Linked DNA regions of Homo sapiens. The protein of the gene in region 1 purifies or fractionates together with the protein of each later gene. This does not show direct contact. Each region holds a gene or a part of one and is shown on either strand. Other genes may lie near its edges.

Region 1 (14,735 bases):
CAGAGGCCAGGGACCTGAACTGCCACTGAGGTTTCTAGCCGGGCCCCACCTTAGTCCCAGAGAGGGCTCTCTAGGGGCCTGTTTGATGGGGACAGGGCAGGTGGCTGAAGCCACCTAGGGGAGTGGCCAAGCCCAGGTTCCAGTGGGAAGCCCTGCCACCTGCGTGGGCAGACCCCAGACCCAAGCCACAGGCACTCGGACATGTCTTCTTCAGAGGCCTCCCCCACAGTGCTCTGGGACGGCCCCTCCGCTTCCCAGGGCTTGGGGGGCGTGTCCTGGCCAGGGACCCTGACAGCCCCTCTCGTGCTTTTCCCCCAGCTATGTGATGCGCATGAAGGAGTTTGAGCGGGAGCGGAGGCTGCTCCAGCGGAAGAAGCGGCGGGAGAAGAAGGCGGCAGAGTTGGCCAAAGGCCAGGGACCCGGGGAAGTGGACCCCAAGGTGGCCCTGTAGGGGGTGCACCCCCCACCCTATGGACCAGTCAAATAAAAGCCTTCAGGCCCCTCAACCAGAGTCCCCTCTTACTGCTCCGACGCGAGAGTGGGGAGAGAGTGAAGGGCAGTGTGGTGGTCCCCAACCCCGGAAAGAAACACACAGAGCCCGAGTCCGACTGGGGCAGGCGGGCTTTATTCCGGGTGCTGGAGAGCTGTGGGCCCCACTCCTCCCCCAGAATGCCACCGGGTTGAGGGGCTGAGCCTCAGCAGGGGTGAGCGCTCAGAGCAGGAAGGGGATGATGGGCATGCGCAGGGGCGGGTAGTCCCGGAACTCCTTCAGGTAGCTGCGGTGCTTGCCCTTGGCCCAGATGGTCATCTGGGTGAAGCCCACCAGGGAGAACAGGGCCACTGCAGGAAAGAACGGGCGTCAGGGAGGGGCTGCCGGCCCGGAGGGGCAGGGCCCCGCCGAGGGAGGGCGGCAGGCTCACCTGGGAGACACTGCGTCATGATGGCGAAACCGATCCAGGACCCCACCTGTGGGCAGGGGCGGAGAGTGAGCGTGGGCAGCCTCGCAACCCGTGTATGTGGCTGTCCTGGACTCAGCCAGCCACCTCCCGCCGCCCCTGCTTTCTGAGTCAGGGATGGGAACCCAATTCCAGCGGAGGCGGGGCTGTATACGGCGGAAGCCCAGCGGCACACGCCTCCCCGCCACCACAGCAGAGAGGCCGCGGTCTCCACCTCCCAATGCTCGCAGTGCAGGCGGCAAAAGCAGCTGCCCAGCCAGGCGCCCCATCCTAGGGGCTGGTCCCTCCACATGGGACCCCAAGTCCCAGGGCAGAGAGGGGTAAGGCAGCCCCTCACCTCGTAGGTGTAGTTGGGGCAGGACACCAGCAGGAAGAGCCACGTGAAGGGGTTCTTGGTGGGGTATGGGATCTTCCGCGTCTTGGACCCTGGCAGGCAGGACAGAAGGAGAAAGTCAGACCCCCTCACCCAGCCCAGCTGTCCCCCTGCCCCCAGCAGGCACTCACCAGCGGGCCGCAGGTCCCGCAGGGCCATGTGGATGGAGAAGTTGCCGAGCTGGCAGATCTGTCAGAGAAGCAGGATCAGCCTAGGGCCGCCCAGACTCCCCCGACCCCGTCCCCACACCCAGCCTCCTTACCACAAAGATGGCGAGCGCCAGTTTCACCTGCTGAGCTCCGTAGGCTGAAGAGGAAGCAGGGAGGGGAGCCCATGAGGGGAGGACCCGCTGGGTGGGGACCGTGGGGGAGGGAAGGATGGTCTGAGGCCACTTACTAGGGGGAGTGTAGAGAGGGTGATTGATGTAATAGGCCATCCACGCGGCGAAGCCCCAGTAGTAGGTGCAGTTCTGAAAGGGAGCAGGGCAGGGATGGGACTTGGGCCAGCACCGGACAAGGCAGATGCTGCCCATGTCTCATCCCGAGGGGCCTGGGAGCATGGTGGGAAAGGACAGGAGGGGCCTTGGGGCGGGGCTGGGGAGGATAGGCGGGGCCAAGGGGTGAGGCTAGGGCAGGGCTCTGTGAGGGCGTGGTGGACAGGAGGGGCCTAGGGGTGAAACTGGGGCGGGGCTCTGCAGGGGCGGGGCTGGGGGGATAGGCGGTGCCTAGGGGTGGGACTAGGGTGGATAGGCAGGCCTAGGGGCCCGACGGGGGCGGGGCTGGGGAGGACGGGCGGGGTCTAGAGGCTCTGCGAGGGCGGGGCTGGGGAGGTTAGGCGGGGCCTAGGGGTAGGGCTCTGCTGGGGCGTAGTGGCAGACAGGAAGGGCCTTGGGGTGGGGCTCGGTGGGGGCGGGGCGGGGTGGGGCAGAAAGGCGGGGCTTAGGGGTGAGGCGGGGACGGGCTCTCACCTTGAAGATGTTGCGCAAAGGCATAGTGCCATGGGAGAAGCGGTGCACGAAGAGCGTCTCCAGCAGGCGCTTGATGTAGTGGAATGAGTGACAGATGCAGGCGAGGCTGGTCGGGGGGAGCAGGCTCAGCTGGGGCTGGTCCGGCAGGTCTTCTGCCTTCCCCTACCCTCCTCCCACCTGCCCCACTTACTGCACCACTGTATGCCGACTGGACGTAAAGTCATATTTGTGGCCATAGATGAAGGGCACTCGGAAGTAGAAGAGCAGGTAGATGAAAAGGGGCCCCGCGTACTCTGTTAGGAAGACCTGAGAGTAGAGGGGGGCAAGATGAGTCACCCAACGTGGCTGACGGGAAAAGAGGCCGTGGGTAGGGTCAGGACTCACCGTCACCCAGCTGATCTGGGCCCCCAGGTCCCGGAAGTACAGTGTGGCCGTGGTGCCCACGGGCAGCTTCTGCAGAACATCCTCATCCTTCAGGGACTTGCCCTCTGCAGAGAGGCGGGCCAGGGCTCAGGGGCTACCCGGGCCTTCTCCCACTGCCACCCAGGAGCCCAGGGGGCGGGCCGAGTGGACAGCTGTACTCACTGGGGTCCAGGCGGAGGGACTGGCGGGCGGGGTACCACTGCGGATCTGCGGGGAGAACAGGGCAGTTACAGCCCACAGCCTGGCAGGGCTCAGCCGGTCCGCTGCCCAGCCACTGTGCCAGCTTCTCAGGGTTCCCAGGGTGCAAGGACCCCAGGACTCCACAGCTCCTCCCACCTGGGGGCAAACCCTCAGGCTTGTGCGGTTTCAGGACACAAGCCAGAAGAGCGCGGGCAGAAGCAGGATCTTGTCCTTCCCAGAGCCTAGCAAGGGCGTTCCTGCGGAGTGCCACGTGGAGGCGCCTGCCCCAGTCACGCCCCAGAAGCCTGGGCCACACTGGGGCATCTCTGCAGGCCCCTGGGAGAGGGGTGCAGGATGGGATCCCTCCCACCCTAAGGTCCCTGGTCAAAGGGGTTGCAGGGGCAGTGTGGCCGGGACTAGAACTCACGGGTCTTAGTGAAGAGGTTCTTGATCTCCGCAATGGTGGCGTGGGGCTCCACCTGGGGGAAGCACAGGCGCAGGGACGTCAGCTCTGCGGGGAGCCCAGACTCAGGATGGGGAGGTACTAAAGGGGATGGCAGGCTGGGGGTTGGGCTGTAGCTATGGGAAGGGGGAAGGGCTGGGGTCCAGGCCTCTGCCTGCAGTCAGGGAAGGACCACCGAGGGCCCTGCCAGTGCAGTGACAGCAGGGGTCTGGGGCTCCACTTTTACCCTCAGCCAGCAGGCCCCCAGCCCGGCTAGTGGCGGATTAAGCATGGGAAGGCAAGCCTGCTTCTCTGCCCCTCCTCTCCACTTCTCACCCATGACTCTCCCAGGAGCAAAGGCCCTCTGTCCTCCCCAGGGACAGCGCAAGCCCCTTCCCCCAGGCCCGGCCTCAGCAGGGGCAAGGCTCACTCCTCCACCGCCCTCCCAGGACCAAAATCCCCGCAGGGTCCACTGAGACTCCTGTGCCTCCATTTCCCCGCCACACCCAGGGGACATGGCTATCCACCCTACCCCAAGTGAGGGCATACCCCTCCATAGGGCAGGGGGTGGGGCACAAAGGGCCCCACTGGACAGCTCCTGGGCTATAAGGATTGGGGTCCCGGGCCCAGTGCCCTTGGCCCAGTGCAGCCCACGCCCCAGTCCTACCTTGTCCAAGAAACACAGCTTCTCCCTTGTCTTTGCGTCCAGAATCTCCACCTCGAAGAAGAGAACAGCCTTTTTAGGTTTCTTGGCCACCTTTGGGGGTGTGGGCCTGGGGAGCCCATTGAGGCCAGGGAGGAGGCCTGGGGTGGCCTCCCGGGCCAACAAGCTCAAGTTCAAGTCCATGCCGCCTGCCACCAGCCCTGCCACTCGGCTCTGCCCACGGTGGCCAGCAGCCCCAGCTGCCGGCCGTCAGCCCCCACCACCGACCTCCCCACGGGAAGCAGCCCTGGGCCGGGCAAGCGCGATCAAATTCTGCCGCGGTGCTGGAAAGGAGCCCGTGCCGGCCCTGGCACTGCCGACTTCTGTGCCAGATGTAACCCGAGTGGCAACCACAGCCACAGCCCAGCTAAATATAAAACCACCCCAGACTGCGCCCCCCAGGAGCCATGCCACAGACCTTCTCTGAGGGGGGCTTGGGAGTCTCCCCGGGGAGCCAGGCTGCCCTGAAAGCAGCTTTTGAGTGGTCACCTCAAAACCCTCAACGGCACCAGCACAGGGAAAGCCCCAGGGGCAGGCATGACAACACCTCCCAGCCCCCGCCCTGCACAGAGCCAGTGGCTAGAGGAGAGTGAGAGGCCAGCGGGCCGTGCAGGCCCCAGCCCGCAGCTCAGGCCTAGGGAGTTCACTGGGCTTGGAGAAATCCCAGCTATTTTGAGAATCCGCGAGACAGATCATCCATTTCCCCTTCTGAGCTGTAAGAGACACTTTGGATTATTTTCCTTGTGCATTTGTGTTACCAGGGAGGTGACAGATTCTGGAGTTATGGGTGCAGAGAGCCTCTCTCGAAGTGTGGAAAGGATCGGGGTGTGTGGAAGTTTTAGGCAACCGCCTCCAGCTTGGGCTGATGAGGTCTCCCCAACCTTCCTCCCCACCCACTTCTCACCTTATAGCCACCTGTGGGGCAGGCTTTCCACTGAGTCAGCCCAAACACTGCACCCTCACCCAGGACCTGCGCCCCACTAAAGCCCGGCGCTTCCTGCGTCCAAGAGCCAGGCCTGTGCCAGCCCCTGAGGTAGGAGTCTGGCCCAGCCCTCCCTGAGCCCCCAGGCCAGTGATGAACGATGGGGGTGCAGAGGGGCAGGGCTGGAGGGAGGCAGCCCCCGGGGATCTGACCCACCCTATGCAGGGGTCAGTGCAATCCTATTATACAGGGGTCGTGGCAAGCAGGCAGGCCTGATCCCAAGTCAGCCACCAGCCAGCAATTCTTGGGGGACCCTTCCTACCCACAGAAACCCAGCGGGGGCCCCCAGAGGCTGCCTGAGGAAAAGGAGCAGGACACAATGCTCAGAAACAAACCTCTGGGCTGGGGCCATCCCAGGGCAGGCCCACCCACCCAGAGCCCAGGGAGACCGGGCCACGGCAGCTAGGGCCCATCCTGAAGATGAGGGCACCACGGTCAAGCCAGAGAAGCTGGGTACCCCTCCTGCACATTCCCAACGACAGCGGGAGACAAGGGGGCTTGGTGGCCTGCACTCGGGAACCGTAACCAGCCCTGCCTTGTAGTCCCTGGGGGACCCCAGGCATGTCACCTCTCTCTAGGCCTCAGAAGGGGGCAGGTAGGAAGCAGACTACCTCCCAGGACTGTGACGGTCCCCTGAGACAATGCATGGGGTACACTAGGTGACCCCTGACAGATGGGAGGCACCCCATGGGATAGGAGGCATTGTTGCCCGTGGGTTTGGTTCAGATCCCCACTCCCCTGCTGGCCTGGCAGTCACCACAGCATGGGGGCCTATTTCCCCAGCCATGACACACTCGCCCCCACTTCCTGGACAGGAGGGTGGGAATGGGCCCAGCAGCCAGGAAATCCTGGCCCACGGGGCCTCCTGAGTCCCTGCTGTCAACTCCAGGCACTGCCTGGCCTTGTGGCCTCTAGGGGAAGGTTACTGAACTCCTCCAAGCCACAGCGATAACAAGGCCAAAGAGCTGGCACATGGAGGGGCCAGAAAAAAAGAGCTCGGTCACACCACGCAGGACGTTGGGCCCCACCAAGGGGATATGTAGGATAGGGACAGAGGACACGGGGCGGGATCCACGGGAAAGGGTTAGCACAGCAGGGCCCTGGGCGGGCACGGGGCCTGCCCTGTGGCTGCAGGTATATTAATAGTTCCTGGGCCCCAGGCAGGCAGTGCCCACATGCTTCCAAGCCCGTGTGGCCTGTAGGAAGGCAGCCTAGCGTCCACAGGGAGAGAAGGCCTCCGAGTTCCTGCTGAACCACTCAACAGCTTAAAATACAACCAGCCCCTCTCCCTGTCCAGCCAGCTGCTAGTGGGAGGGGTGAAATCGTACCCTGCTCCCCCCAACCTGGGCACCAAACCAGGGCCCAAGAGGGAGAGTACGGCCATCGGGGTCCCGGCTAGCTGCTGGGAGAGGACGCCGGGCTGCGGCAGGAGGGGGTAGCGAGAGAGGGGCCACGCTCACAGCTGCAGCAGTGGTGCCCAGGCCAGCCTGAGGCCCAAGGAGAGGAGACGCCCAAACCTGCAAGGAGGTAAGCCCGGGCTGCAAGGCAGCACCTAGGGGCCCCTACAGACAAGAAATGCCCAAGGCTAGGGCCACCTGGGCAGGATGAGTCCTCAGTGGGACGGCCGTCCGTCTCCCATTTCCTGCCCCAAATCCCCAGCTCGTCGGCCATCTCCTCCTAGAGAGAGGACTGAAAGGCTCTGGGGGGAGCAGGAGACCTCTCCATACTATTCTTGCAATTCCCTGTGTCTCTATAATTTTTTTTTTTTTTTGAGACAGAGTCTCACTCTGTCGCCCAGGTTGGAGTGCAGCAGTGCGATCTTGACTCACTGCAACCTCCGCCCCCCAGGTTCAAACGATTCTCCTGCCTCAGCCTCCAGAGTAGCTGGGATTACAGGCACACACCACCACATCCAGCTAATTTTTTGTATTTTAGGAGAGATGGGGTTTCACCATGTTGCCCAGGCTGGTCTCGAACTCCTGAGCTCAGGCAATCCACCACCTCGGCCTCCCAAAGTGCTAGGATTATAGGCGTGAGCCACCTGGCCCGGCCTATAATTATTTCTAAGTAAGAAAGTTAAATAAGATATTCCAGGTGGGGTAAAAGAAATAAGTTACGCTAGGAAACAAGCCAGACACAAAGGTCCCATATCTATGCAAAATACCCAGAGCAGACAGACAGAAAAGCAAATTGGAGGGGCCAGGGGCTGGGCGGGGGGAATGGGGAGTGGCTGCTGCTGGGTACCCGGTCTCCTTTCAGAGTGAGGAAAATGTTCTGGGACGAGACAGAGGTGGAGGCTGCACAATGATGCACGTGCACTCAATGCCACTGTTCACTTTTAAATGGTTAGTTTCATGTTACATGAATTTCACCTCAATAAATTATTGTTTAAAGGGGTGAGGGGTAACAAACAGGCCCCACATACCCATCAAAATAAAAACAGTCGGGTGGGAGGAGCAGGAGAGGTTCCCCACCCCTCAGAGGGAGGGCCTAATGTGAGACCTCATCGAGGGCTCCGCGCCCCACACCCCACTGCCACCCCAATCTCTGCTCTGTGCCTGCCACACACACACACGCCTGCCCAGGCCTGAGGCCAACAGGGGGCAGGGGCTCCCAGGGGAAGCCCAGGGCTGCAGAGGGTACAGGCAGCTGCTGAACAGAGCCCCAGGCAGGGGATCCTGAGCACAGACGGGGAGGTGGCAGGCTCTGGCCCCATCTCCAGGAGAAGCGGTGAGGCAGGGAGGACAGACAGGACCTTCTGAGGAAGCCCACGGAGCCACTCGGAGGGGCTGGGAGGGGCTGAGATGCTCTGGGTGGATGAAGGGATACCTGTGGGAGGGGGGCTACTGGTGTCAGCGAGGTCCCAGCACTGGCCACGGGCAAGGGGTGAGACCACATAGCCTCAGGCACGACGGGCAGGGAGAGGGCAGGAACGGGCAGACAGGCAGGCACTCTGGCCTGGGGCACAGGCTGGTGGCTCTGCCGGCCTGTGGCTCTGTGATGACAGTTCCACTAGCCTGAGAGGAATTCTCACCAGGAGGCCCAAGATTCCCGGGGCCCAGCCAACAGCAACTCGTCGCAGCACGAGGTCAGGGCAGAGCCAAGAGCCAGGACACACGGTGCGGCGTGAAGCGCACCCTGCAAGAGGGAGCAGGGGCGAGGTTTGTGCCTCCCAAGCCCAGAGGGGAGTGCCGCAAGCAACAGAGCCCGTCTTCACTGTCTTTGTGGTCATGAAGATATTACTAATGGGGGCAGGAGGAGTGAAAAGGGGGGCTCTCGTTGTCTAAGCACTTGTCACAGCTCCTGGGAACCCGCCCGCCTGGTGGGTGAACAACCCAGAGAAGCAGACCTGCCCATTTCCTGGCTGTGTGGCCCTGGGCAAGTTACCCAACCTCTCTGAACTTCCATCTACTCATGGCAAAGTGGGCTGTCCCCAGCTGCCATCTGACAGGGTTACCGTAATCATCCCCAGTTTAGGATAAATCTTATTAAGGATAAATATAGGCCGGGCGTGGTGGCTCACGCCTGTAATGCCAGCACTTTGGGAGGCCGAGGCGGGCGAATCACGAGGTCAGGAGATCGAGACCATCCTGGCTAACACGGTGAAACCCCATCTCTACTAAAAATACAAAAAATTAGCCGGGTGCGGTGGTGGGTGCCTGTAGTCCCAGCTACTCGGGAGGCTGAGGCAGGAGAATGGCGCGAACCCGGGAGGCAGAGCTTGCAGTGAACCGAGATCGCGCCACTGCACTCCAGCCTGGGCGACAGAGCAAGACTCCATCTCAAAAAAAAAGAATAAATATGATGACCGGGCACGGTGGCTCATGCCTGTAATCCTAGCACTTTGGGAGGCCAAGGTGGGCGGGTTACCTGAGGTCAGGAGTTCAAGACCAGCCTGGACAACATGGCGAAACCCCGTCTCTACCAAAGATACAAAAATTAGCCAGGCGTGGTGGTGCATGCCTGTAATCCCAGCTACTCAGGAGGCTGTGGCAGGAGAATTGCTTGAACCCAGGAGGAGGAGGTTGCAGTGAGCTGATATCGCACCACTGCACTCCAGCCTGGGAGACAGAGCAAGACTCCATCTCAAAATTTAAAAAAAGAATAAATATGATTAGGCGGGGCACTATGGCTCACACCTGTAATCCCAGCACTTTGGGAGGCCGAAGCAGGCAGATCACCTGAGGCCAGGAGTTCGAGACCAGCCTGCCCAACATGGTGAAACCCCGTCTCTAATAAAAATACAAAAATTAGCCAGGCATGGTGGTGTGTGCCTGTAATCCCAGCTACTCAGGAGGTTGAGTCAGGAGAATTGCTTGAACTCAGGACGGTGGAGGTTGCAGTGAGCTGAGTTTATGCCATTGCACTCCAGCCTGGGCGACACAGCAAGACCCTGTCTCAAAATAAATAAATAAATAAATAAATAAATAAATAAATAAATAAGATTAGACCAACACTAGCAGAACAGCCATGCCAGGTGCACAAGGGGGCCAAACCCTGGCAGGATCCACAGGCCCCTTCTCCTGGGACGCTGACCATGCTCTTGAAGGGGCCCATCCACAGGAAGCCAGGGCCAGAGAGCTGGTGCACTGATGCCTCGCCCAGCTGGTCACAGTGAACCCAAACCCTAACAATAGCGAGATACTTTCGGTGCAGAGGCCGAGCTGACCCGTCACCACCGGGATGACTGGCTGCAAGCGGCGGAGGCTGCGACGCTCCCCACTGCCCCCTTGTGGCCGCACAGACTTACTCCCGCCTGCTGGAAGGGCACCCGCAGCAGCCGGCTCAGGAACAGTCCCAAAGCCGATGTCAGGGACGGAGACAGCTCTGGTGCAGAATGGGACCTTAACCCTGGCCCTGCCACCAGCCAAGAGAGCTCAGGGAGCCTGCATTCATTTATCCATTCATTCATTCCTGACTCCCTCCTTCCCATACCCCAGGCACTGTTCCAGTTCCTGGGATATGGCAGTGAAAAAAACCAAGCCAGCCTCTGGGGTTCATGGGACCTGAATTCTAGCCTGTGCGTGCTGGGCAAGCAGGGGGTGGGGGCAGATAGCCATAGCATGTTTTGTCACCAAGAGTTGTGAACAAAACTAGAAGGTTGTGGGGGAGGTCACAATGTGGTTTTTTTTGTTTTTGTTTTTTTTTTGAGAGAGTCTCGCTGTCGCCCAGGCTGGAATGCAGTGGCGCGATCTCGGCTCACTGCAACCTCCAAGAGGATGGCCATTTGAGAGTGGTCAGAGAAGCCCTTTCTGAGAAAGTGGCGTGTGAACAAAGGCCAGTAGACAGTGGGGGAACCAGTGCAGTCCAGGCAGAGGGAACAGTAAGTGCCAAGGCCCTGAGGCTGGACCATACCTAGCGTGGCTGAGCAGGAAGGAGTCCTGTGTGGCCTGAGCAGAGTGAGTCAGGGAGAGAGTGGGAGGAGGTGAGGGCAGAAAGGTGATGTGGCGGTCTGTGCCACGGCTTTGTGGGCCACGGGGAGGACGTTAGCTTTTACTCTGAGTGAAGTGGCAGCCATAGAGGGTTCTTGAGCAGAGGAGGGATGAGACTTGGCTCAGGTTCAAGACTTGGCTTCCCCAGCTTTACCTGCTTGCCACTGCTGGGTGGAACAGACTGGAGGAGTGAGGGCAGAAGCTGGGAGCAAAGAGGGAGCTATAGAGAGGTGAAAAGTGGGCTGGGCGCAGTGGCTCACGCCTGGAATCCCAGCACTTTAGGAGGCTGAGACAGGATGATCACTTAAGCCCAGGAGTTCAAGACCAGCTTGGGCAAAATAGCAAGGCTCTGCCTCCACAAAAAGTATTTATAAAAATTAGCTGTGTCCACGCATGGTGACTCACACCTGTAATCCAAGCACTTTGGGAGGCTGAGGTGGGCAGATCACCTGAGGTCAGGAGTTCGAGACCAGCCTGGCCAACATGGTAAAACCCCGTGTAAAAACACAAAAATTAGCCAAGTGTGGTGGCACACACCTGTAATCCCAGCCACTTGGGAGGCTGAGGCACAAGAATCACTTAAACCCAGGAGATGGAGGTTGTGGTGAGCCAAGATTGCACCACTGCACTCCAGCCTGGGCAATAGAGTGAGGCTCTGTCTAAAAAAAAAAAAAAAAAAAAAAAAAAGAATAAATAAAAATACAAAAAAATTTGCTGGGCATGGCAGTGGGCACCTGTAATCCCAGCTACTCAGGAGGCTGAGGCAGGAGAATCGCTTGAACCCAGGAGGCAGAGGTTGCAGTGAGCCGAGATCACACCACTGCACTCCAGCCTGGGCCACAGAGCAAGACTCCATCTCAAAAAACAAAAATAAAAAATTAGCTGGGTGTGGTGACTCGCACCTATGGTCCTACCTACTCCTCAGGGGCTGTGACAGAAGGATCGCTTAAGCCTAGGAGTTCCAGGCTGCAGTGAGCCATGATTGATTACACTACGGCACCCCTGCCTGGGGGACAAAGCAAGACCCTGTCTCAAAAAAAAAAAAACAAGGCCAGGCGCAGTGGCTCACGCCTGTAATCCCAGCACTCTGGGAGGCGGACGTGGGCAGATCACAAGGTCAAGAGATCAAGACCAGCCAGGCTAACATGGTGAAACCCCATCTCTACTAAAAATACAAAAATTAGCTGGGCATGGTGGCACACGCCTGTAGTCCCAGCTACTCAGGAGGCTGAGGCAAGAGAATCGATTGAACCCAGGAGGCGGAGGTTGCAGTGAGCAGAGGTCAGGCCACTGCACTCCAACCTGGTGACAGAGTGAAACTCCATCTCAAAAAAAAAAAGCACAAGGCAGAGACAAGCAGTGAAATTCTGGACAGATGTGGAGGTGAAGAGTGGGTGTGGCCTGAGAGTGGAGTGGGTGTGGGGATGAGAGGTACAGGGAAGGAGGGAGGAGCAGGCACCACCTGAGCCAAGGCTGGAAGAGCTGAGCCTGCAATTCCTGCTCATCCCCTGGAGGCGCAGCCTGAAGGCCTGGCACACACAGCCATGCACAGAAGGCCTCTGGAGCTTCGGCTTCCCCAGCTTCACAAACAAGCCAAGACTGGTGCTTCCCAGTCCTCTCCCGGCTGTAAACAAGCAGGTTCAATGGCCTTGCTGGCGGCAGAGTCCACACCACAGGACCCAGCAAGGCACCTGCCTGCCCTCTCAGCCCCAGAAGAGGGGCAGACCCGGGCCAGAGCGGGAAGCTTGGATTCTGGGCCGGCCTCATCTCCCATGGCTTATGAACCTGAAACTTCTGTGTGTCCTAGGACGTGACCTGCCTAATGGTGATGAGTGAGAACAGCGACCAACAGTTATTTCACGTTCCCTGCCCGGGGCTGGAACTGCCACAGCTTCCCAGACATCTCTCCTGCAGCAGCCGGAGGGAGCAGGAGCCATTAGCTCCGTTTCACAGATGAAGAGGCCAAGATCTAAGCAGTAAATCCCAGAGCCCAGAAGACCACGCGTGCATGTTGAAAGCCAGGCCATACCCCACCACACATGGGCCTCCAGGGCCCCCTTGCAGAGCTGATGTGGTGCCGCACAGCCCACCTGTTGAGCTCAAAGCTCCGGCAGGCTCTCTCGGACCCCGCAGGGGACTGCACTTCCTGGTAGGAAGCATCTCCCGAGTCTGGGGCACAAGAGGCCTGGCTGGGGGTGCGAGCCCTGGTCAGTGCAACCAGGGCCCCAGGTAAAGACACAAAGGGCCTGACAGGTCCTGCAGCTGGCCAGCCAGGCACTCACCATCCCCGCGCCGGGCACAAGCGCTGCTGCACTCATCGCCTGAGCTCCCTGTCCAGCCAATGCCCAGCATAGAGGTCGGAGGCCTGGCCCGATCATGCCCAGAGCCACGCCGGCCACCTCGCCCCCATCACCTCGCCCCCATCACAAATGCAGAGACTCCGGCACATTCATCTGGACTCCGGCTCAGCGGCTCAGCCCTCTCGGCTCCCTTTCCTTCCCACTTCCAGAAATATCAAGTCAACCTGCTAATGCCAGGATGGCTGAGAAGACCTAGGGCTCAGCTGCCAGGAACCCTGCACAGGCCACACCTGCTCGGCCAGAAATACCACCTTCCCCAGTGGCCTCAGTGTATGACCTCGTTTCTCAGTGGCACCCGGGGGCGGCTGCACCAGCCTCCCCGAGGCGCCACAGTGGAAGCAGAATGTCACCCAGGGTGGGGAGGAAGGGCTGAGAGTGGCTGACCTCCCACTCCCAGGTCCCTGGACCGCTCTGCTCCTGTCTTCTACCTGTGCTGGCAAGACGAGAGGTGCCAGGGTCTCAATGCCAATGTCTCTGGGCTCTCGGATCCGAGGCCAGGGCCAGGTGCAGAGGCAGCGGTAGCCCGGGACCCGGAGAAGCTGGAGCTGCTGTTCCCATCCAGCAGAGCCCCGAGCGAGCAGGTAGCAATCCAGCCTTGGAAGATGGTCATCGGACGCACGAGCTCCTGGCTTGGGCGAGCAGCCACAGCCATTCATAGAGGATGAATATGGCACAAGACAAACACAGTGGGAAGTTGGAGAACCTGGGTCTCAGCCCTGGGCCTGCCCCCCATTCTCAGTGGTACCCACAGCCTACACCCATCCCTGCGGTTGTGCCCTCAGGGCCTCCGAGGAGCACTGGCCCACCCAGAGCGACGCTGATCTCGCCCGTTTCATTCAGACGTGACATCTATCAGATGCTCACCCTGTACCTAGGACTATGCTGAGACTGCCACCCAGGCCTCACCCAGGCCCTATAAGAAAAAGACTGGGCCGGGCGCAGTGGCTCACACCTGTAATCCCAGCACTTTGGGAGGCCGAGGCGGGTGGATCACGAGGTCAGGAGATCAAGACCATCCTGGCTAACACAGTGAAACCCCGTCTCTACTAAAAGTACAAAAAAAGTTAGCCGGGCATGGTGGCGGGTGCCTGTAGTCCCAGCTACTCGGGAGGCTGAGGCAGGAGAATGGCGTGAACCCGGGAGGCGGAGCTTGCAGTGAGCCAGAGATTGCGCCACTGCACTCCAGCCTGGGCGACAGAACGAGACTCCTCTCAAAAAAAAAGAAAAGAAAAGAAAAGAAAAAGACTGTGATGCCTGTTACGTGGCTTGGAAAACTGGGGCTTGGGAACGAGGAAGCCCTCGCCCAAGGTAAGTAGCCTGGAAGTGCCCATGTGAGTGTCCACCCAGCTTGCTCAGGCCCAAAGCTCCTACAATAAAATAATGCCTCCATCCTAGAGAGCAGGGCTATGTGCAACAGAGAAAGGAAAAGGCAGGCCGGGCACGGTGGCTCACGCCTATAATCCCAGCAGTTTGGGAGGCCAGACTGGGAGGATTGCTTGAGCCCGGGAGGTCAAGGCTGCAGTGACCTATCATTGCACCACTGCACTCCAGCCTGGGGGACAGAAGACACGCTATCTCAAAAAAAAAAAAAAAGAAAAAAGAAAGAAAGAAAGAAAGAAAAGAAAAAGGCCAGGCGCGGTGGCTCATGCCTGTAATCTCAGCACTTTGGGAGGCCAAGGTAGATGGACTGCTTGAGCCCAGGAGGTCAAGGCTGAGTTATGACTGCACCACTGACTGCACTCCAGCCTGGGCGACAGAGCGAGACTCCATCTCAAAAAAAAAAAAAGAGAGAAAGAGAGAGAGAGAGAGAGAGAGAGAGGGAGGGAGGGAGAGAGAGAGGGAGGGAGGGAGGGGGAGAGAGAGAGAGAGAAAGGAAAGAAAAAGAGGAAGAAAGGAAGAAATAAAGAAATAAGGGTA
Region 2 (16,581 bases), on another chromosome or scaffold:
AGGGGATCTATATATAAAGGAACTGCTTAGTAAATCTTTTACCCAAGCAAGGAATTCTTCTGCAGTAGCACTAGTCATCTCCTAATTGGTCTGTTCATAATTTTAGATTTTCAAGTGTATACCTGCTGAGTGAACTACAATTATTTCTTAGTTTCAACAATCCCTTTTCATCCAATAAGAGTAATCTATACAAACAAATGATGCTCTTAAATATATGTTACTTAATATTCATAAAAATACAGTAAGGACTATACTAGAACCTCATTTACATCTCATTTAATTGTCATAATAATCCCGAAAAGTATCATCCCCCTAAAAAATGAAAGAAGTTATGCTCAGAGGTTAACTATTTTTGCCTAAGGTCAACCAGCTTAGTAACAGCACAGCTTGCCCACTGACTCCAAAGCCAATCTGTTTGTTAGCTATACTGTTTCCCAATGTAATACTCTTGAGAGGCACCAATTGTTCAAGTTCTTAAACTGTCTAGCCCTTCCTCTCTTCCACAATGACTAGGTTATTTAAATGGAAATAACTTCACTAAATGGTGGCAAAGATAACTTTCCAGAAACTGGATAGTTTTCCTGGAATTGCCAGTTAGAGATAGGGCAAACGCATTGTTTTGTAGACAAAAATCGACAAATAAAACAAAGCGTTCTTTCTGATACAGATTTGTGGCAAGCTTCTCAACTACCACACCATGGTATTATGGAGTTACCATGACAACGCAATAACCTAGTTTCAGTGTTTCAATAACCCCATCACTCAGTCCCTGTAAGAGAAGAACTTCCCATACCACAGTGATCAGACTTTTCCCCCAGACAGAAATGGTCTCTGAGAGATGATAACTAAGAAGTGCACAAAAGTAGCATCCCTTACAAAAAGCATAAATTCCCATTTTATTGTATTCATTAAATTTTTTTTTTTTTTGAGACAGAGTGTTGCTCAGTTGCCCACTCTGGAGCGCAGTGGTGCAATCTCGGCTCACTGCAACCTCCGCCTCCTGGGTTCAAGCTATTCTGGTGCCTCAGCCTCCCGAGTAGCGGGGACTACAGGTGCATACCACCACACTTGGCTAATTTTTGTATTTTTAGTAGAGATGTGGTTTTGCCATGTTGGCCAGGCTGGTCTGAAACTCCTGGCCTCAAGTGATCCGCCCACTTCAGCCTCCCAAAGTGTTGGAATTACAGGCATGAGCCACTGCGCCCAGCCAATTGACATTTTAAAAAAGGCAATTTTAACTGAGTTTATCTGAATACCTAGACTGATCTATCTCTGTGTAACAATGTTTTCCCAAAGAGGGCCGGCAATAACTCTAGGGAAGTCATAGAAACAAGAAATTCGGCTTACAGTTGCAAACACAACAGTGTTACCCTTCTGCTTAAAATCACCTCAACTGCTTTCCACTGCTCCAGGATAAAGGCTGAAGGCCCTGCTCATTGCCCTTCTTGCCTCTCCAGTTCCATGGCACTCATATCTGAGCTTTCCTGGCTCGTCACTCAGCCCTCGTTTCATGAGGGCCCTGCCCTTTCCTGCCCTAGGAATTTAGCAACTGCTTTTCCTTCTGCCAAGAACATTCTTCCCTCTGCCCTTCCTGTCACTCCAGCTTGCTCACTTACACTCAACCGCCAGATCTCAGCTGAGGCACTGCTTCCCCAGCACAGCTCTAGAACTTTCCCTCACAAATTCTCATAGGACCAAATACTTCCTGTTCTCACCACTTACCATAGCACAGTTTATTCATTTTGTTACTGTTTGTCATCCCATTGGACTATTATAAGGTCTATAGTTAGCACTCAACAGTATTTGTGGTGGATAAATGGGCAAATGAATAGTGTTATGTCATACTCTCCACCAAGCCCAGTGAGGGCTTTGCTCACCCTGCCTCCCTAACCTTAATCTCAATCCATCCCAGATGACATGCATATGAATTGCTACATGTTGTTTTGCTAAGAGTGACAAGAAGGGAAATGAAATAAAGGATGCACTGTTTTTAAAATATACATTTAACTTATCCTTATCTACAAATAGCTTTTAATGGCACTGAAACTGATCTATTCAAATCCGTTTACCCATGCATTCTAAACTTATAAATTTTGTTATGTAAATCTGACAAATTTTTCTGAAACTGAAAGAAATAAATTATCCTCAATTCAACCAACCAAAACCAACAACAACAAAAAATTAGTTTTAAAGCTCAACACTCTCAGTTGCAAGTAGCAATGGTAATCTCAGTTATCTGACAATGTAGTCACCCAGATATCAACTCTTTCTTCTAAACCCTACCCTGGCAATTAGCTCAGGTAATCAGAGCACAGTGCTACTAAGGCTAATAATACTATAATAATAACAAGTTATCAAGCACTTATGTACTATCTGTTTTACAGAGAATAAGTATTCTCATTTACCCTTCACAATAAGCCTATGAAATCTGTAGGGAAGCTAGAATTCAAGTCTAGGTTTGGGTCTCCAAGTTCAAGTTTGACCTCTAAATAGGAAAGTTAGTGTTGCACAGAAAGAAAGAACAGGAAAAAAAAAAAAAAAAACAGGGTGGGAGCAATGGGGGCTAGTCGGGAGGGGAGTGAGGGAAAAAGATATTCAGGGAATGTAAACTCAGGATCTGTAATCCCAGGAAACCTCCCTCTTTGGTTTTTCCTCCAAATCAAATAAAGGTATGCTTTTAGGTCCAATCTTCAGTTGCATCTGTTTCCTCTTATGTAGACTCCAGCACTAGTACTTGAAAGTTGCCCTGCCAACTTTAATCTGCAGAACTTTTTCCATTTAGGCACACGTACTCCCTTTCGGGAGCCAAAGGGCAGAATAAACAAATATTCAAAAACATTTATGACTAAGTTTGTTTCTCTGCCTTCCCTCACCTTCCCTGCCTCTGCGAAAAACATAACCCATGTAATGACTACTGCGATCAACATTGGCTCGCCAGTAAGAACAGGTATCTATACCCCAATACTAGAATGTCAACAGCAAGCATATGACATTTACCAAGCTGGACCTCCAGGGAGTCACTAAATCCATTCAAGAATGCCAGAGCGATAAACAGAAAATAGCATTCGAAGTCAAATCCCACCATTCTGATGACTGTCAAACCCTTTGCTTTGTTAAGCACCTTAGTAACTTTCCAGTATTTTCTCATACGACAAGATTTATGGTTGCAAATCTGAAGAAAATCCCAAGCTACTTGATCCCAAAATGTGCCAACTATTCTGCAATCCTTCCAGAAAAATCATGAATGTGCAAATTTGAAACTGTGCCTTTTTTTGGTCTGAGATTGTTCTTAAAAATAAAACAAAAATTTAAATTTTAAAAAGTGAAAGTGTGTCTTCAATCAAAAAGCTTTTAATAAAGTTTGTAGGTATAAAGAAATCTACTCCCGAGTACTCATCCAGTCTGTAGGCCCATCACCAACATACAGTGTACGAATGTTGCAGAACGGATGACTTGGTTTCAAATCCTGACTCTGCAATTTAATAGCTATGAAACCATAGATAATGAAAGCAATTTACTAAACCCTCTGATTCTTCCTCTGTCCACTGGGGACAACGGAGCACAGCTCAAAGAGGTTAAAAATAATCTCAAGTTCCTGGCACATTTCAAGCACCCATTCAATAAATGATAGTTATTAATATTTCTTCTGGGTTGTCAATTTAAATAACTAACATTTCATATATAATTCTTCAAATCATGTGATATCACAAACTCTTGTTAAAGAAAGACACCTACTATTAATAAGCTCTAGTTACACAAGTATTCTTCAGTCATTTGAGGTTAACCCTGTGCAGTTAACCAATGTGAAAACAGAAATTGTGATTATACCTGTGATTTTGAGAATCCTTTGATGCATGTTTTCATGAATGGTTTTTCCAGAGGAGAACCACACCATTCCATGCCATTTTTAAGTCCTCACTATCTACTGAATTAGGAGAACCTTGGAATACTGCAAAGCCAAACGAGTTCCATCAGCAACCAGAAGCTACATCTTAGAGATTTGCTAATGTAAACATCCAGAGGGTAGAACAAAGGGTTGAAGACTTTTTTTGTGAAATCTGACCTCACTCCACAAAACAGAATATTATTCAGCAATACAAACAAAATGAAGTACAGATTTCATAGATGAAACTTGAAAACATTATGCAAAAATCAAAGAGCCACTAACAAAAAAGAACACCTATTGTATGATTCCATTTATATGAAATATCCAGAACAGGCAAACCTACGTAGACAGAAAGTAGATTGGTAGTTGACTAGGGCTGGAGCGGGTGGGGGTCAGGGAGTGAAGGGCCTAATGGGTACAGCATTTCTTTTAAGGAAGATGAAAATGTTCTGAAATTAGATTTGATGATGGTTGCACAACCCTGTGAACATAAGTAAAAACCTTGAATTGTACACTTTAAATGGGCAAATTGTATGGTATATTAATTATATCCCACTAAAGTTGTTTTAAAAAATCTAACTCACTAACTGATTAGTGGATCATTTATTCTTCACTGCGTGTAACAATATCCTCTTCATTAAAAACTAAAAATAAGTGCTCAGAGTGCTGTCTTATGTTTAAAGTTATAAAATATCTTGACATTGGAAGTCTACTTACCTTGCCTTTGCATCTATCATCTCCACTTTATTTCAATAGCAATCATTTTAGATGAACTCCAGCAATGGAAACTACTCAAATACTTGCAAAATGTATTTATGGTCAAACCACATTCTACAGATCACATTTTTTATTGCTCTATAGCAGTGACTGTTCTTTCCTTTATTTAATACAAACTGACCACCTTTGTTATCAATCTTTTTTTGATTACTTGCTACACTGACCTTCAAACACCTGAAACTCCACATTCACAGGATCTCCTTTTGTTCTCCTAAGAAATACAGGAAGTATTCGGGTAACAATGACAAAGAAGTCTTACTTACTAAATTGGCTAAACCCACCTTCTAGGGGTATAGGGAACACAGGGGATTCACCTGAGTGGGAATGTTACTGGTGAGAACTAGGAGAAAGAGATGGCCCAGCTCTTGACCAGGAGATGGAGATAAATTAGAGTGTGGGCCAGCCAAGTAATGGACAGTCTTGAAAGCCTAACAACACTAAGGAAACTGTTATCTAGAATATTTTACTGATTGTGAAGCATACCTGTATTTCAAGTTTTTCAAAGTTTTTGTTCTTAAATTTAGAAGAGCCAATTTGTGAGAAAAGACAAAAAGTGAGAATCCACGCTTTCTGCCCCTCAGATCCTAAAATCTGAGGCAGACAGATTAAACATACTCACATGAAGATACTCACATGAAGAGACTAAGAATAACAAGAATAAAAATATAGTATCAATTCAACATATACTAATAAAATACTTAAAATATATAATTGGTTTTAAAGAGGAAAATATTAAATATTAGTACTAGAAAGTAGATTCAAAGGCTGCATAAGAACAGAGACTCTTGAGATTAAGATAGTAATTTCGTAGGGAAAAAACTTACTAGTACTATTTACATACAACAATTCTAAAATCATAACTTTGGTGGAACAATATTTTTAATCACAACTCTAATTATTCAAGTGTCATCTCTGCTAGTTTGTTTTTCAAATTATTTCAGTTCACCCCTCCAACTCATGTGAAGAACCTGTTTAAGATGAGCTGCTCTTAATTTTGTTTTTGAAGAGTCCCAGAATTTGAAGATAAAGGGAGTATTTTCTTTTAAGATCACTTCTTCTGCTTAAGCATTTAAAAAAAAAAAATCCAAAACCCAGGGTAAATTGAACCTGTCAGCATTTCACTTCAATTATGATACTATGATCCTCTGCTGTTCCAGTGTTCCAGTTCAAATTTCATATCTAAATCTTACACAAATACTTCCCTTAATTTATCAATTATCCTTCCTCTGGGGCCAAATCTTTTCAACACAAATGTTACTTATGGTGTTACATCACTTGCCTTTTACTGTACACTCATATGTAGATGACTTGGACTTATCATTTGAATAATCAACCAATATGGTCAATTTTAAAGAGAAAAAAAAAAAAAAACAAAAAAAAACACATCCAGGCATGGTGGCTCACACATGTAATCCCAGCACTTTGGGAGGCTGAAGCAGGAGGATTGCTTGATCTCAGGTCTTCCAGACCAGCCTCTGAAACAGAGTGAGGCCTTGTCTCTACAAAAAACAAAAAAAATGAGCTGGTGTGGTGATGCACACCTGTAGTCCCAGCTACTCAGGAGGCTCACATGGGAGGATCACTTGAACCCAAGAGTTCGAGGCTGCAGTTGGCTATGATCACACCACCACACCACTGCCCTCCAGCCTGGGTGACAAAGTGAGACCCTGTCTCAAAAAAAAAAAGAAAAGAAAAGAAAACAACAAGTTATTAACATTAGTCTTTGCTTACCAATTACAAATTTTATCTTGATACAATTCCCTAATTTTTATCTTGTATAAAAATCTTGTAGTCTTTTGTAGTCAAAAGTCTTCAAACAGGTTTTCCAAAACTAACAATGAAGAATGTGGGCAAGTCAATTGGGAAATCATAATCTTAATTATAACCAAGTTGAATACTTCACTTTCTGTTTTTTTTTTTTTTTTTTTTTTGAGATGAGTCTCGCTCTGTCACCCAGGCTGGATGGAGTGCAGTGGCATGATCTCGGCTCACTGCAAACTCCGCCTCCTGGGTTCAAGCGATTCTCTTGCCTCAGCCTCTGGGACTACAGGGGCGCGCCACCACGCCCAGCTAATTTTTGTATTTTTAGTACAGACGGGGTTTCACCGTGTTGGTCAGGCTGGTCTCAAACTCCTGACCTTGTGATCCACTCGCCTCGGCCTCCCAAAATGCTGGGATTACAGGCGTGAGCCATCACACCCAGCTGAACATTTCACTTCCTTTTTCAGAGAAACAGGTGACTGTGAAACAGAATTATAATGTTGCTCCACATCGTCCAAAGATTTCACATACATATCCACTGCTAAGATGTTTTCTCTTAATGTTAACATAAACCCAAAAGGTTAACATATGTCTTTCCTACTAGGTTGTTTAAATGTTTCTAAATAAACAAAGAACATGGAGTAACATTATTAGTGTATCTTACCTGAGCCCAGTCTGCAGGCAATGCCTAACCACCCCAAAATTCAATAAAATGCTTAGGAAGTGCACATTCGATTATAAAACATCAAAATAAATAATCATCTCAGGGTAGGACCACAAGCATATCATAAGTAATCACTCGGTTTAAAGGGAAAAAAGGCCAAGAGACGAAAAATAAAGCAAAGAAGGAAACAAAATAGGTTGAAAAAGAAAAAAAAAAGGGGGGGGGGAGCAAAACTTCCCTGCAGATAATTTTCCCTATTTCCTCAACCTGACCTTCGTCCTCCATTTTAAAAATCCTCCGACTACAAGTTCCATGTGTTTGGTTCACTCTTTACGGGTATACTTTTTCCTACAAACGTCCTTGTGAAAAAAAAAAAAAAATCTGATTTTAACATGATGAGTTATCATTTTACAGAAGCAATAGTTCTTGCTACTCGTTAGGACTCCAGAACAGTTTAGCGAGAATTCCTTTTAAAGGGGCTTTGTAATTGTATGAAATAGGCCAAATCCAGATACGATTACTATCTTAATCGTAACTGGGGAGGTACGATTCCGCAGTGCAAAAAGCCTTCTGAAATTGTGTCCCTACACCCCTTTCCATCCTCTGCCCAAACATGTTAACAGAATGCTCTGCATCCTTAGCACAGGGCCAATATTCAAACCGAGCGAAAAACTTTATTTTAAAAACACTTACAAGGGGCGAACCAAGGAGGACAGCGTGTGACTGAGGAGGCAGCAGGGCGACTGACTGGCTCCATGAACACGGAATGGCTTAAAGGGCACAAGCCCCAGAGACTTAAGGCAGTTTTCTCCTACACCCTAAGCTGAGCTTAGATTCCCAGGATTGAGCGAGCAGTGTATTTCGTACCTTAAAACTCTGCAAGTAGTCTAAGCAAGCAGAAGACAGCCAAGGGAGCCAGGAGGGGCCCGCGGGGCACAGGAGCCTGAGAAAGAGGAGAGCTGGGGAGGGGAAGGCCAGGAGCAGACCCCAGAACTAGTCATCACGGCCCAGGCCTGGTCCGGGCCGCCGCGGGAGCGAGGACGCGGCGCTGCATCCGACTCACCTGCCCATTCTCCGAGCCCCGGGCCGACCCCCGCCTCATTCCCCACTCCCCAGACCCGGAGGGCCGTGAAGAGCGAGTACGAAATACGCAGGGCTAGGTAGGCCACGGTGCCCGCGCCGACCCAGTACAGGAAGCCGGCGGCGGGGAGAGCGCTCTCCATGGCTTTCCACTAGGCCTCACTACCTTCGTGAATGAAAAGAGCGAGTGAATGAATCCAGGAGGAGGCGCCGGCCGTGACGGTGAGGATGACACTAATAGGCGCTGCTCCGACACCACTTTGGGCCTAAACCCCGCCCGCGGGGCCATATCCGTGTCGCTATTGGTGACCCGTCTTTCCCTCTGCGCGTAGTGCGTCAGCCATTAGCTGACTCCAGTTCCACTGCCCCTCCCACACTCCTCCCATCACCGCGTCCCCCGGGGTTCCGCCAGTGAGCGCCCTGTCTCACCCCACCGAGGCGCCCCGGTCTCTCATTGGCTGCAGCCGTACTCGCGACTGCGGAAGACTGCGCTCGGATTGGCCGGTCAGACCCAGGCTGGTTTGAGCTCAGGTTCGAAGAGGAAATGGGATCAGAGAAGCCGCTAGTGAATGGAAAGATTATAGTAAGAAGTGGGCGTAGGCAGGGCGCGGTGGCTAACACCTGTAATCCCAGCACTTTGGGAGGCCGAGGCGGGCGAATCGCTTGAGCTTAGGAGTCCGAGACCAGCCTGGCCAACATCCGAACCCCGTCTCTACTAAAAATACAAAAATTAGCCGGGCGTGGTGGCGTGCGCCTGTAATCTCAGCTACTCGGGAGGCTGAGGCAGGAGAATCACGAACCCGGGAGGCAGAGGTTGCAGTGAGCCGAGATCGCGCCACTGCATTCCAGCCTGAGCGACGGAGTGAGACTCCATCCCAAAACAAAAACAAAAAAAAAAAGAAAAGAAATAGGTGTGGAGCCACAGTTTTATTTTCAACTCTTTATTAAATAAATATATATTTTACATATATGATATAATTATATAATAAATATATCATTGTTAAGCGTGCTGTCATTGTTGCCATAAACTTTTCCAGATAAAGGCTTGCAGTCTTCTGTGTCTGTGCCTTCCTCGCTGCAGGCATTCGCCCGGGTTACACTCACTCATAGAGAGCCCTTAAATGCCAGACCTCCCTCCCAGCTGAGCACTAAACATCACTTAGTTCCCAACGATTTGGGGTTCAAGGCAAATAACCTGATGGAGTCTAATAACTGTTAGACGATGGCATCAGAGCTGTATGGTGAATGAAAAATATAGGAACACAGCTTGCTGAACAATTAGTTTTGGAAGGAGACTATATCTTTTAATTTGTCTTCAAAGGGGGATAGAAAATTTTACTTTCTTTTTTAAATTTCCCTTTTTTGGTTGGGGAGTGGGGGAGTGGTATTTCCAGGGGGCACAGAAGTGTGAAGTCCAGATAGAGGCATGGGAACTACGTTAGCAAAGTTGCAGAGGAGAAAGATCACAAGGTAAGTTTAAAAAATTGTGTAAAACTTAAGGAGATTTTGGGCTGAGACGATGGGGTTTTCTAAATATACAATTATGTCATCTGCAAACAGGGACAATTTGACTGCCTCTTTTCCTAACTGAATACTCTTTATTTCTTTCTCCTGCCTGATTGCCCTGGCCAGAACTTCCAACACTATGTTGAATAGGAGTGGTGAGAGAGGGCATCCCTGTCTTGTAACTCAATGTGCAAAAATCACAGGCATTCTTATACACCAATAACAGACAAACAGAGAGCCAAATCATGACTGAACTCCCCTTCACAATTGCTTCAAAGAAAATAAAATACCTAGGAATCCAACTTACAAGGGATGTGAAGGACCTCTTCAAGGAGAACTACAAACCACTGCTCAACGAAATAAAAGAGGACACAAACAAATGGAAGAACGTTCCATGCTCATGGATAGGAAGAATCAATATCGTGAAAATGGCCATACTGCCCAAGGTAATGTATAGATTCAATGCCATCCCCATCAAGCTACCAATGACTTTCTTCACAGAATTGGAAACAACTACTTTAAAGTTCATATGGAACCAAAAAAGAGCCCGCATTGCCAAGTCAATCCTAAGCCAAAAGAACAAAGCTGGAGGCATCACACTACCTGACTTCAAACTATACTACAAGGCTACAGTAATCAAAACAGCATGGTACTGGCACCAAAACAGAGATATAAACCAATGGAACAGAACAGAGCCCTCAGAAATAACACCACACATCTACAACTATCTGATCTTTGATGAACCTGGCAAAAACAAGAAATGGGGAAAGGATTTCCTATTTAATAAATGGTGCTGGGAAAACTGGCTAGCCATATGTAGGAAGCTGAAACTGGATCCCTTCCTTACACCTTATACAAAAATTAATTCAAGATGGATTAAAGACTTACATGTTAGACCTAAAACTATAAAAAACCCTAGAAGAAAACCTAGGCAATACCATTCAGGACATAGGCATGGGCAAGGACTTCATGTCTAAAGCACCAAAAGCAATGGCAACAAAAGCCAAAATTGACAAATGGGATCTAATTAAACTAAAGAGCTTCTGCACAGCAAAAGAAACTACCATCAGAGTGAACAGGCAACCTACAGAATGGGAGAAAATTTTTGCAATCTACTCATCTTACAAAGGGCTAATATCCAGAATCTACAAAGAACTCAAACAAATTTACAAGAAAAAAACAAACAACCCCATCAACAAGTGGGCAAAAGATATGAACAGATACTTCTCAAAAGAAGACATTTATGCAGGCAACAGACACATGAAAAAATGCTCATCATCACTGGCCATCAGAGAAACGCAAATCAAAACCACAATGAGATACCATCTCATACCAGTTAGAATGGCAATCATTAAAAAGTCAGGCAACAACAGGTTCTGGAGAGGATGTGGAGAAATAAGAACACTTTTACACTGTTGGTGGGACTGTAAACTAGTTCAACCATTGTGAAAGACAGTGTGGTGATTCCTCAAGGATCTAGAACCAGAAATACCATTTGACCCAACCTTCCCATTACTGGGTATATACCCAAAGGATTATAAATCATGCTGCTATAAAGACACATGCACGCGTATGTTTATTGCAGCACTATTCACATTTGGAACCAACCCGAATGTCCAACAATGATAGACTGGATTAACAAAAAGTGGCACATATACACCATGGAATACTATACAGCCATATAAAAGGATGAGTTCATGTCCTTTGTAGGGACATGGATGAAGCTGGAAACCATCATTCTCAGCAAACTATCGCAAGGACAAAAACCCAACACCACATGTTCTCACTCATAGGTGGGAATTGAACAATGAGAACACTTGGACACAGGAAAGGGAACATCACACACTGGGGCCTGTCATGGGGTGGTGGGGGGGTGGGGAGGAATAGCATTAGGAGATAAACCTAATGTAAATGACGAGTTAGTGGGTGCAGCACACCAACATGGCACATGTATACATATGTAACAAACCTGCACATTGTGGACATGTACCCTAGAACTTAAAGTATAATTTAAAAAAATTGTGTAAAACAATAAAGTGCTTCACACTTACTCTCTACCTTCCTTCAAGAGTTTTTGTTTCCTTCTCTGGCATGGATTTGGGCTCAGAAAGGTACCTAAAATTTGTTCTTAGCCAGTAGGGGCTGCTGATTCAAGACTTGAGTGTTTTTTGTAAAGCAAGAACTTAAGGATAATAATTCTAAGGGTAACAGTTCAACATACCTTGCAGCTAACTTCATAGTTTGATAAGATTCAATTTGAGCCTTATTTCTTGCTGCCCAAACCCCCCCTTCTCCATTCTCTTATCAGATTAATTAGGTCTAACCCTAAGGCTGTAAATGTAAACCATCAATTACCCTGCAGAATTCAGCCATGTGAGTCGAGCTGACATCATATTTTATTTTAATTGAATTTGGTACCTTTGGCTGGGGCTGCCTCTTCAGTTCAACTAAAGGCCCACCACTCTTCGTCCTCAACTTCTCCCTCTTCCCCAAATCTTTGCCTACAGTATAGCTATATCCCCAAATTTATATATCCCAGCTCATCATTGCTCACCAACAAGGCACCCTCTAGATATTCAGTCCCATTCTCCTTAGAATAGGGTGGAAGGGGGAGAAGACAGTTATTATAAACTAACAATACATATTTTTTGTTGCATATGTCTGTCTGTGGCCCCCACTAGAATCTATGATTATAGGGAACACTATGCTGTGAATCCATAGGACCTAAAACAGTGCCTGGTACCTAGGGTACCCCAACAAATATCTAAGAAATAAACAGAAGTGAAGATTCATTCATTCAACAAATATTATTGTGTTCTAATTATGTGCCAGTCCACTGAGCTAGGTACTAGGTATAAAATAGTGAGCAAATGGGCAATTCTCAGTCCTAACCCTACTCTACCATTCAACAGGGAGTGGCCACTGCTTTCCTCTCAGTGTCCTTTGCTGGCCCCTTCTCTTACTGGCCTCTAAATTACACAGTGCCCTCAGGCTCAGACCCCAGCTCTCTTTACGTCTCTAATATATGATTTTATCCAGTCCCTTGGTTTTAAATATCAGCTGTAAGCTGATTATTTCCAAATGTCTCTGTCCAGGCTCAACTTCTGCTTAGAGGTCCAGACTTCTATACAGTATATATATCCACCTGCCTATTCGCATCTCTACTCAGATATAAAATAAACATTTCAAACTTAACATGTTTAGAATAGAACTCTACGCTTAACACATACACACACACACACACACACACACACACCCTCTTCCTCTTTTCATTCCTATTTCTATTAATGATACCATCATTTACCCCCTTTCTAAGGCCCAAGACTTAGGGATGAATGTTAACTCTTTCTTTTCTTTTTTTTCCCGCTCTTACCGCCCAGTCTGGAGTGCAATGGCGCAATCTCAGTTGACTACAACCTCCGCCTCCCAGGTTCAAGTGATTCTCCTTCCTCAGCCTCCCAATTAGCTGGGGTTACAGGTGCCCGCCATTATGCCCAGCTAATTTTTGTATTTTTAGTAGAGACAGGGTTTCACCATGTTGGCCAGGCTGGTCTCAAACTCCTTACCTCAAATTATCCGCCTGCCTGGGCCTCCGAAAGTGCTAGGATTACAGGCATGAGCCAACATGCCAGGCCTGAACCTTGATTCTTTTCTTTCCATTACATTCCATATCCAATTCTTTAGCAGGTCTTATTCACTCTACTTCCAAAATATATCTTGACTGGCCACTACTAACCTAATTCAAATCACAAGCATTTTTAGCCTGGAATATGGCAATAGCCTCCTAACTGGTCTCCCTAAAGCCTGTGTTGGAGTTTGTTGTCCATGTAGCAACTAGAGGGTTTTTTTTTTTTTAAGTAAATTAGATATCATTTTCTTCTACTCAAATCCCTTCAAGGACTTTATATCACATTAAGAACAAAATCCTCCAAGTTGAGTTTGTCTGCCCTGACCTCTCCGGCAACACGGACCACCCTCTCCTGTGCTCACTTGATTCCAGCCACACTAACTCCTTGCAGTTCCTCAAATAAGTCAATTTCATTCTGGTCTCAGAGTCGTTCTATTACACTTCCACTTCCCTCTGCCTGGAACCTCTTACTATCTTCCCAAGGCTCACTCCTTTGTATTATTTAGGCTTTTGTTCACATGTCATCCCCCTTAGAATGGTATTCCCTGACCTCCCTTCATAACTTTCCCAAATAGCTTTATCCTCTGCTCTAGCAATCCTTATCCTTTTATCTTACTTTGTTTTCCTTACAGAACATAATGCTTTCAAATTGTTTGATTACTAGGTCTTTGTCCATCTACCTAATAGAATGAATGTAAGTTCATTAGTACAGTGAACTTTTCTTGTTCACCACTGTATCTTTAGCTAAGATGTGCACCCAAGAGTACCTGACACTTGGTATGCAATAAATACCTGTTGAATGGGTGATGAAGGAATAAATGAAAATAGATTGTCTAGTGGGAGAGACAGACATTCAGCAAACTTCCAACTAATTATATGATAAAAATTGTAATACGTACAAAGAAGAAAATAATAGGACATAAGGAAAGAGGTTAACAAGAGGACCTAATTTAGGTGGGGGAAAAGAAACAGCCTTGAAACGCCTTTCTAAGGAACCCATATTTGAACTGGGATCTGAGAAAATGCAGAAATTGAGTGAGGGTGTGGTAGAGGAGAAAGCAATCAACACCGGAATGAAGGCTTTGATGTGGTTTTGAAGAATACACATCTGTGCCTCTTGCAACTATCACAGCATATGGCATAAAATTAAATAGGCAATAATTGTTGGTGTAGGGCTATTTAAAATAAACACATGTACTTTGGAAATGGAATTTCCATTGCTGTTGGAATTTAGTTATTTTAATGAAAAGGAATGTTAAAGACTGAAACCATCTCATTTTGGTATGCATTCCTCTTCTAAAATGCCTAGGCACTACCCATGCAATTAATAGAATAATCGTTATTTAAAATGTACACATTTATTCTGATCACCTCAGCCTCTTTTTAGGAATTAGGAATACTAATTGTTTTATCTACTAAGGGAAAAAATGGCGACTTCCACAAAGTGAAGCAGTACATGCCAGATAGCCCTTTGGAGTTCAGGTGGTCACACACTTTTGGAATTCAACAATCCTTTGTCGCTGAATAAATTTTACGAACCACAGTAAACTCTAATGCATACAGGACCCTATAATGATGACCCACTCCTATTCAGCAGTATTCTGTGCTGAAATTTAACATCTAATGAAGGGTTAGTAGAGCCATACTAACCAAACATGTGACTAATAGCTCTCCGAAGAAGAGGCAATACGATAAAACTCTGGCCTTTAGTGTCAGGTAAATCTGGAACCAGATCCTGATTCTGCCTCTTATTAGCTGTATGATCTTGTATAGATTTAATTATTATGCATTCAAATTCCACATCTGTAAAATGAGAACAATACTACTTAAGCATTTAGCAGTGATTGGCAGATAGATATTAAGTGTTCAGTGAGGTAGGTACTACTCTTAACCCCATTTTATGAATGAGGAAACAGAAGCTTAAAGCTAGTAAGTGGAAGAATTGGAATTTGAACCAAAAAGGTGTGACTATGAAATCATATCTCCAGAACTAGCTCAGAGAAAGCAGCATCTAAAAAATGACTAAAGGCTGGGTGCCGTGGCTCATGCCTATAATCCCAGCACTTTGGGTAGATCCCTTGAGCTCAGGAGTTCGAAATCAGCCTGGGCAATATAGCGAAACCCTGTCTCTACAAAAAATACAAACAAACAAACAAACAAACAAACAAACAAACAAAACTAGCTGGGCTTGGTGGTGCATGCCTGTAGTCCTAGCTACTTGGGAGGCTAGGCAGGATAATTGCTTGAGCCTGGGAGGCGGAGGATGCAGTGAGCTGAGATTGCGCCATTGAACTCCAGCCTGGGTAACAAAGTGAGACCCTGTCTCAAAAAAAAAAAAAAAAAAGAAAAGAAAAGAAAAGAAAAGAAAAGAAAAAGACTAAAGGAGAGTAGAAGAGTCTCTAGAAATATTTTGTTATTACACAAATAAAATACTCAGATGTAATCACATTAGATTTCTGCTTCATTTATTAACAAATTTAGAGTTTAGAATAGTATTTAATATGAAAAAAATGAAGCAACAATATTGTATCATATTAGTATACAAATATTCCCATTTAGTCGAAAATTCATTTTTAATATTTCTGTAAATTGAGTTTCAGATCAGAGTTTCCTGATGAAATCAGGAGTAGTTCTATAGAATGAAAGTACACTTCATAATCAGGGAGTTTCATAGAAGCGAGGAATTATTAAGCATACCATCTTGTTTAATCCTTTGGGACATAGCTGAATCCTTCACTTGGCTGTAAAATAAAACCTTTTAACAGTTCTGTCTTCTCGCTCATCTTGATTTAAACATTGTTCAAAATATTGAACTTTAACTTGCCTTTAAATTCAGTTGTCCAATCCTGGGTTAAAAAGAAAAAGTGTTGTGATGAACAAACCAATTTAAAAGAAACTGAGTCTTAAGCATTAGAAATTGGGAGGTTTCCCAAAGTTAATATTTAATTTATTTAACAAGAAATATTACCATAAGAAAGGAAGATTAACATTTATTGGCCAGGGTGCGGCGACTCACGCCTGTAATCCTAGCACTTTGGGAGGCCGAGGCAGGCGGATCACCTGAGGTCAGGAGTTTGTGACCAGTCTGGCCAACATGGTGAAACCCCATCTCTACTAAAAACACAAAAATGAGCCGGGTGTGGTGGCAGGCGCCTGTAATCCCAGCTACTCAGGGGACTGAGGCTCTCTTGAACCCAGGAGGTGGAGGTTGCAGTGAGCCAAGATCGCACCACTGCACTCTAACCTGGGCAACAGAGTGAGACTTTATCTTAAAAACAA

The links.
Region 2: the proteins of TECR (region 1) and HSD17B12 purify together in Homo sapiens (co-immunoprecipitation; 2 studies listed by BioGRID and IntAct, with this or other methods). This does not show direct contact.

What each region holds. Positions count from the first base shown.
Region 1 is NC_000019.10:14,551,849-14,566,583, reverse strand, and holds the end of TECR (very-long-chain enoyl-CoA reductase), read right to left. Parts: intron 6,554-14,735; exon of another isoform or gene 6,193-6,553; intron 4,060-6,192; coding exon 4,009-4,059; intron 3,444-4,008; exon of another isoform or gene 3,411-3,443; coding exon of another isoform or gene 3,379-3,410; coding exon 3,327-3,378; intron 2,927-3,326; coding exon 2,882-2,926; intron 2,785-2,881; coding exon 2,681-2,784; intron 2,603-2,680; coding exon 2,487-2,602; intron 2,403-2,486; coding exon 2,297-2,402; intron 1,799-2,296; coding exon 1,726-1,798; intron 1,636-1,725; coding exon 1,592-1,635; intron 1,519-1,591; coding exon 1,461-1,518; intron 1,383-1,460; coding exon 1,294-1,382; intron 967-1,293; coding exon 921-966; intron 841-920; coding exon 713-840; 3' UTR 604-712; downstream 1-603. Other genes in the region: NDUFB7 (NADH dehydrogenase [ubiquinone] 1 beta subcomplex subunit 7), read left to right, coding at 319-451. UniProt on the Homo sapiens protein: Involved in both the production of very long-chain fatty acids for sphingolipid synthesis and the degradation of the sphingosine moiety in sphingolipids through the sphingosine 1-phosphate metabolic pathway.
Region 2 is NC_000011.10:43,672,558-43,689,138, reverse strand, and holds the start of HSD17B12 (very-long-chain 3-oxoacyl-CoA reductase), read right to left. Parts: upstream 8,402-16,581; 5' UTR 8,312-8,401; coding exon 8,152-8,311; intron 8,037-8,151; exon of another isoform or gene 7,846-8,036; coding exon of another isoform or gene 7,782-7,845; intron 1-7,781. UniProt on the Homo sapiens protein: Catalyzes the second of the four reactions of the long-chain fatty acids elongation cycle. This endoplasmic reticulum-bound enzymatic process, allows the addition of two carbons to the chain of long- and very long-chain fatty acids/VLCFAs per cycle.